Linked DNA regions of Homo sapiens: region 1 is reported to be linked to region 2. The links are microRNA targets in miRTarBase. Many come from high-throughput screens and were not tested one by one. Region 2 holds a microRNA gene; the other region holds the end of a gene's coding sequence.
Evidence for each region. Region 2 holds the annotated microRNA hsa-miR-1182 (GAGGGUCUUGGGAGGGAUGUGAC, at 2,838-2,860, opposite strand). A microRNA usually pairs through its seed, bases 2 to 8, with sites in the 3' UTR of a target mRNA and lowers its output. Matches are read on the target gene's strand: a 7mer-m8 pairs with bases 2 to 8, a 7mer-A1 pairs with bases 2 to 7 and ends in A, and an 8mer does both.

Region 1 (3,000 bases), not on the chromosome of region 2:
CCAGGTGTGCGAGCCGCCGGAACGCAGGCGCCCGGGCCGCCGCTGGAGCGTCAGCATCGACGAGCGCCGGCGGCTGGCCACGCTGGGCGGCCGGGAGAGGCCGGGCGCCGCCGGGACCCAGCTGCACTGCAGGGTGCGCGGGGGGCGGGTCCTCCCCGCCCCGTCCCCGCCCCGCCCCGCCCCTCCGCCTCGCCTCCCTCGACTCAGTCCCACTGGGCCCTTTACCCCGGCGCTCCCGGGCCCCGCCGTTGTCCCCTTCCCGCCCCTCGAGGCTCCCTGACCACCCTCGCCCGCAGGACGTCGTGCAGATGGTAGCCCAGCTGGTGTCGGAGGACGTGGACAAGGACGTGCTCCTTCCCCACCCGCTGAGGTCCACCGAGTCCACCAACGCCTTCCAGGCCTTCCTGGCGCGCAGTGCGCCTTTCTGGCATAATGCGACTTTCGAGGCCTCGAGGTCACCCCCTTCCTAAGAGCCCCATTCAGCCCATTGTCTGTCTTCCAGTGCCTTTCCTTGGGGGCCCACGGTGGGGGCAGCCTCTGCGCCTTCTTTGTGCCCCACCAGGGGGTCACCACCCACCCATGTTAGGAAAACAGGCCAGGCAGGACCTGGCTCCGGACAGCCTGCAGCTGCTGAGGCCTTGGAGACCGGGCTAGGGGCTATGGGAGGCCATCTAGGGGAGGGGAACACTGCCCCGGGTCAGTCTGAGAGGGCCCTGGCAAGGCCTGGGTAGCAGGAGCTTGCCCTCGGGGCCGCTGGGAGGAGGCCTGGGGTACCTGGGCCTGCCTGAGGTGCACTGGTGTCCTGGGAAGCCCCAGTGGCAGGCGCTGCCTGGAGACTCAGCTCCTTGGCTGGCCTGGTCTGGGGAACTGGGTATCTGCCTGCACCAGGCTGTGAGATGGGCCAGGCAGAGTTCTCCAGGGGGCGGGGTCTCACATTGGGTCCTGCCTCTGAAGACCCAGAAGGGCACACGGGACCCCAGGGGTGCTGTGGTGGGGAGCAGCAAGCCCAGGGACCCAATGCAGTGCCCAGCACAGAGGGAGGCTGTCTGGAGGCAGAGATGCCTCCTGGCCTCTGGACAGCGATGCTGGTGGTGGACGAGGGCCAAGAGGGTATCCTGCGCAGGGGGTCTGAGCAACTGTGAGGAGCTGGCTGCCGCAGGGGCCTGTGGGACATGGTCCACTGGGTGACTGCCTCGTTTCCAGGCTGCAGGGCCCTCGGAAGGGTGCTGAGCCGGGGTAACGTGTCCCAGCTGCATTTTGGGGACACTAAGTTGCAGGGGGACTGGATTGGGAGGCGGGGCAGGAGAGCTGTGAGCATGGGTTCCCAGCCCGGGGTGGGTGGGGGTGGGGAAAGGGCCCTGAACTCTGTGACTGACTGTTAGGGGCCTGACTGGGCTTCTGTGGAGGTGGCTAGGTGGAGGAGGCTTTGGGGCAAGCGGAGGTGATCACTCCTGGGCTCCAGGTGAGGGCAGGAGCTGGACCTGTGCGGTGGCCTGGACCACCAGATACACTACATGCTGGCTGTGCTGCCCACCTGGCCTGTAACCCTCCCCTTCCCGCTGCTGAGAAGCCACCTGACTGCACTGCCAGCCACCTGCTGCCCTGACACAGGATCCCTGGCCCGAGTTGAATCCTCTGCACCTGCCTGTCTCCCCTTCTTACTGTAAGACTCAGTGAAGTTCCCTCCTCCTTCAGGAAGCCTTCCAAGATTACACAGCCAGGTGCTCCCCTTCTCTCCCAAGTCCTCTGAATGTCATTTGGTGCACCCTAGGGATCCTCTGCATTTCTCAGGAGCCCTAGGGTAGGTGGATGGAGGGCAGATCCTCCAGGGGCTAGGGCAGGTGTCCTTAAGGGTGTGGGGAGTTTTGGGCAGGGCACTGTCCTTAAGGGTGTGGGGAGTTTTGGGTCATGACCCACCCCCTCTGAGGCCCCTGATGATGATGTGGGGAATGGGATCCTATGGGCCCAGCTGCATGCCAGGCAGGCATCCCCAGGTGTAAACAGGGCAGAGCGGAGCTGACAGGTAAGCAGTTGCCATGGGGGTGATGAGCTGGGCAGTCCTCTGTTGCTGAGTGGCTTTAAAGAACCACTCGTTGTTCTGTGACTTGGGGGTTGGCTGGGCTCATCCTGCCAGCTCTCCTGCTCTCGTTTGAGTGTCTCCTGAGGCTGCAGTCAGAGCGTGGTGGTCCAGGATGCTGGTGATGCTGGGATGGTTGCCCTCTCTGCTCCATGAGGTCTCCCTACAGAGCACCTCCCCCATGGTGGCAGCAGAGACAAAACCCTGGCCTCCTTCAGGCTGAGGCCCAGAGCCAGTCTCCTGGTGGGTAAGGTGGCCACAGGGCCAGCTGGCAGCAGGGTATTGGCACTGAGAGGCACAGGCCTCTCCAACAGAGGTGGTGCCGGGACAGGGGCAGTGCCTGGAGACCGCTTAGGTTGTCACAACTGGGATTTGTGTACTAGTTTTCTGTAGCTGCCATAAAAATTGCCACAAATTCAGTAGGTTTGGTTTCTTTTTCTTTTTTCTTTTTTTGGTGGTTGGGGCGGAGCGGGGGGCAGGCTTGCTATGTTGCCCAGGCTGGTCTTGAACTATTGGACTCAAGTGATCCCCCGACTTTGGCCTCCTGGGTAGCTGGGACTGCAGGTGCATCCCACCACACCCGGCCTTTATTTTTTTTTTTGTAAGTTTTTATAGAGAAACAGTCTTGGTATGTTGCTCAGGCTGGTCTTGAACTCCTTGACCCAAGCAATCCTCTTGCCTCGGCCTCCTGAGTAGCTGGGGTTACATGAGTGTTCCACTGGTGCCTGGCTTTGAGTGTTTTAAAACAACACAAATGTATTAGCTAAGTTTTGTAGAAGTTCAAAATGGGTATCTTTGGGCTCAGAATGAGGGGTTGGCAGAGTTCTGTTCCTTCTGGAGGTGCCAGGGGAGACCCTGTTTCCCTTTTTCTAGCCTCAAGAAGCCACCTGCATTCCTTGGCTGGTAGTTGTGGCCTCCTTCGG
Region 2 (4,660 bases):
ACAGTTTCGGGTTATTTACATGTTTTAAGTGGAGTACCAAGAAATGTGGTGGTTATTGTATACACGTGCATCTTCATCATAGGAACGAGGAATGTGCTGGCCCTTCCCAGCAGCAAGGGAGAGGCCCCTGGCCTGCCTCGACTCATTCCACTTCTAACTCTGACAGACTATCCAGCAATAGTGAGATGAAAGCCCCAAAACTCAAAAGCACAATGAATCACTGCAGTTCCAGAACAGCCTAGAGGCAGCAACCCAGGGAAGGGAGCCATTCTGAACCATGAGTTCCCCCAAGCCTGAACTTGTCCTTCGAGCTTCACTCCCTTGCTATTGTTGACCCATTCTGAAAGGACTGGGGTCTCCTAATCATGCCCTGGGGCCCACTCTTCCGCAGTGCTGAAGGAGATCCTGGTAGCCCTCTATGGAGAGGTGGTCTCCAAGTGCTAGGCACTGGGCCGACAGAAAGCTGCTTCCCAAGCTTTGTGAAAGGAATCATCAGAGGCATCTTAAGAGGCAGGGGCTGATTCAGCAAGGCTGGGGTGCTTTGAGATTGTCCATGTCTGATCTACGCACCACGCTTTGAACACTATGTAGCTGAAGGACTGTATCTCAACATTTCTACACATTAGAATCACCTGGGAGGCTTCCTCGATCCATAGAGGCGCCCACGCCTCACTCCTACTTAAATCCAGACTAGGCATGCAGGGTGCTGGAGCCCAGGCATCAGTATTTTTCTTTTTTTTCTTTTTTTTGAGATGGAGTCTCACTCTGTCACCAGGCTAGAGTGCGGTGGCACGATCTCGGCTCACTGCAACTTCTGCCTCCTGGGTTCAAGTGATTCTCCTGCCTCAGCCTCCCGAGTAGCTGGAACTACAGGCACGCACCACCATGTCTGGCTAATTTTTGTATTTTTAGTAGAGACGGGGTTTCACAATGTTGGCCAGGATGGTCTCAATCCCCTGACCTTGTGATGTGCCTGCCTTGACCTCCCAAAGTGCTGGAATTACAGGCGTGGGCCACCGCGCCCAGCCCTAGGCATCAGTATTTTTCTAAACATTCCCCAGGTGATTCTTAAAGTGGCCAGGTTCAAGAACAGCTGATCTAAAGGTTCAACTCACTGTAAGCATGGAACAGCCTCAAAGGAACTTCCTGCAAGTGATCCAGACTTAACTCTGTTGGTCTTAACTGCTTTTAATTTTCTTGTCCCCACTGACCAGTTATGTGCTGAAGGCAATTAATTGCCACCTCTCATTTTAACTCCTTTCAACAGAGGAAATAAGCAGGCGTATTCCTCCTTCTCTGTATCTCACCCCAGTTCCTGACCCAGGGTGTACTTGACAGGTTAACACTTGGCGATGCATGACATTGAGGTGCCTTCCTCTCCCTAACCTGAAGGACGCTCTAGTGAGCAATTATCACACCAAAAGAAAGATGAAGGAGTCTGCAGCATTCAAAGACAGAAGAGCAGCCAGGCATGGTGGCTCACACTTGTAATCCCAGCACTTTGGGAGGCCGAGGCGGGTGGATCACGAGGTCAGGAGTTCAAGACCAGCTAGGACAACACAGTGAAACCCCATCTCCATTAAAAATACAAAAATCAGCTGGGCGTGGTGGCAGGCGCCTGTAATCCCAGCTACTCGGAAGGCTGAGGTGGGAGAATTGCTTAAACCCAGAGAGGCAGAGGTTGCAGGGAGCCAAGATCGTGCCACTGCACTCCAGCCTAGGCAGCAGAGCTAGACTCCGTCTCAAAGAAAAAAAAGAGCACTGAGAACCAGCTGTAAATGGTGATCTACTCTTGCTAAAACGATTCCTTAAGCTCAACAGAGTCAATCTTGTTTCAAATGCATTTAGTGGCAGAAAAACAAACTAATTTTCTTTCATTATTTGACTGGACTCAATGCATTCAAGTCATGAAAGTTGATGATTCCAAATTCAGAATAAAATAACACATGACACAGATAGTTTAGCATTTTATCCTCATTTTTAACCTACAAAGTGTAATGTTCTCATAAAGTATTTTAATAAATATATTAAGGCTTAAGGTAATTACTGGTTTGAGTGGCGGGTGGTTTGCTTTCTAGCACACTAGTTTACATTCGGAATCTTAAAAATGAAAACATTTGCCATCTTACAGTGAGTGATACATCACATTGGCTTGCCCCAGTTTTTGTGTTCTTTTTTTTTTTTTCACTATTCAACATGTCTTCGTATTATCTTCCTTCCTCTCGTATCTGATAGACAAAGAATGATATAAAATTTTGGTTGAAAAAAGCCAGTTGATTGGGATGACTAGAAATGTTAACTTTTTCAGTAAAAAGCTTTCACCGAATCACTGGGCAGTTAGTAATGCAGCTTACAAATAAATAAAGCTGAGGCGAGAGGTTTAAACAGCAAGAAAAGCTGCAGAGCATATTGAGGAAGGGAAGCAGTGAAATGGTGGTTTTAATACATCCCAAACTGGAAGCAAGAACCCTAACACAAAGAGGATTGGAATACTCTACCATCTGTAAGGAAGTAGCTAGCTACAAGCCACCTCACACAAAACACCCACTAAGGCCTTTCACCGAGATCCTCTTGTTATATTCTCATTATGAATCCCCAGCAGGTGCACCTCAATAAATAGGTGTGGAGGATACTGCTGAGGACCTCTAGGTCACCTAAGCAGAAACTGCTGCCATCAAAGCAGACTGCCACCATGCATCCGCGGAGAACTCCCTGCCTACAAATGAAACTGGTAGCGCTCATCCCCTGTGCCCGAGGACCGTCCACAACGGAGGTGCTTTCTTGCAAGAGAAGCAGCAAATGATGACAGCGTGTCCAGTAGGAAGGGCTTCCCAACAGTCACATCCCTCCCAAGACCCTCTAGATGGACTCCAGAATCCAGTCGCTGCTGGAGAGGGAGGAGACAGGCAGTGACAAGTCCCGAGGAGGGCCTCGGTCCCTCCTGTCGTGCAGGGAGTTCTGCTCCTGGAAATATTCCTCCTCTTCATCGAAGAAGCCGTTCTCCAGAGCGTAAGTGCAGTCTGGGCTGGAGGCTGCCTGGCATGCCCCCTTGTACTCCTGAATCGACTCGTAGAGGCTGTACAGTTGGCAGAGCAAGGACATGTCCAGCTGGCGGAGACCAACCTTGAGGGAAGGGGTGGGGAGGTAAAAAACGAGAAGTCAGCACTTGAGTTTAATTTCAGTGGAACACTCAGCCGGCGATCTGCGCCTGCCAGCACATTCCTTCCACACGGCGCATGATTCAGAGCATCACTCGGATGCTTTGGATTTCCAGTTTTGAGAACACCTTAATTGTGTTATGCCCATACCTCAGACGTTACTCATTGAGTCCAGTGAGGATCGCATCTGTGGGGCAACCAGGGCAGCCTGCAGAATTTACCCTGGCGCTCCTGAGTGTGCCTGATGAAGCAACAGCACTGCATATTCTAGTGGCCCCACCTGCTTTCACTTTGGACGCCAAGAAACGAGTGTGTCACTTCCTCTCCCAATCAGACTCGGAGAAGACCCACATTGGCCTTCCCTGCTACTGCGTTAGGATCTGACTGATGCAGTCATTCTCAACTCCCAGGGGCAACAGAATGCCCTTTGCCAGTGACAGCAGCTGGCCAACGTGACATCCCCCTGGAGCACCCACCTCTGTGCAGTTCAGTGGTCAGAGGTTACACTGCCTCCCTCTCCTCCAGGCAGGGTCAGTCTTATCCCAGATGGTTCTGGGATCCCTCCCCAGAGTAACTGACTGAATATGAGGAAGCCCTGGAAGATGAAGGGCTCTACAGTTCCTCCTGAAAACTAGCCCCACAAAAACAAGCAGCAAAAGAACACAGAACATTTATAAAAGTCATATACTTGTTTATCTTCCAGTTCCTCCCTCCCCCACCACCCATCCCAGAGAAAAGAGCACGGTCACAGTCAGAACAGGAAATGCATCGTTTACACCAATACCAAAGAGAGAACAGTTAAGCCTCTTGGAAATGCAGCATAGACCAGCATCGGTGCCTCTTAACCTTTAAAGTGCATGAGAACCACCCGGGGATCTTGTTCAACAAGCAGACTCTGATTCAGTGGGTCTGGGGCCACTGGATGGCTGTGCTTCCACCAAGCCCCTATGGTGATTCCGTGCTATGCTGCTGTTCCACAGACCCTGCTCTGAATGGCAACGGGAAGAAACTCAAGAAGACACCAGGGGACCTGCCTTCGGCTTCTTGGCCCCTGAGCAAGGTATTTATCACCTTCATCTCCGTGCCTTGGTTGATGGCAAAATGGAACAATAATTTCTCTTATGGAGCTATTAGGGCAATTCAATATCAATCCACTCAATAAACAGGATTCTAATGCCTCCCGGGCTAAAGCACTAAAGATGCATGGGTACAGCTCTCCTGGGCGGCTGGAGAAGGAGCTTCTTCTCTGGAGTGCGCCGGTGGCAGCGCCTGCAGACCTAACTAGCTCCAGGACTTTAAAATACTGGAAATCTGTCCCGATCCAAATTCTTTTGCAAGCCAGATGATTAACCAGAGGGCACGAAAGGTTGAGAACATTCGACTTCCCTGCAAACCTTGGTATAGATCACTTCCTTTTCTGTTAGGAAACGAAAGGCACCAAAGAGCACAATGAGTACAAGAAAGCGTCGAGGTGGAGCAATAAATTCTAGACAAGCCCAGAA

Region 1: miRTarBase lists TEX22 as a target of hsa-miR-1182. The part of its 3' UTR that is shown has no 7-base or 8-base seed match.

The regions. Positions count from the first base shown.
Region 1 is chr14:105,411,364-105,414,363 of GRCh38, forward strand. TEX22 (testis expressed 22) reads left to right here. Exons shown (of 4, transcript NM_001195082.2): 3 at 5-133; 4 at 297-2,496. The coding sequence ends at 470. Among named protein-coding and RNA genes, the nearest start is that of MTA1-DT, 6.9 kb to the right of the region's middle. RefSeq lists a silencer at 38-167 and enhancers at 239-742, 743-1,245.
Region 2 is chr1:231,017,004-231,021,663 of GRCh38, forward strand. MIR1182 (microRNA 1182) reads right to left here and starts at 2,921; the gene lies at 2,825-2,921. It overlaps FAM89A (family with sequence similarity 89 member A), which reads right to left. Exons shown (of 2, transcript NM_198552.3): 2 at 1,955-3,123. The coding sequence ends at 2,860. It also overlaps the pseudogene LOC644006.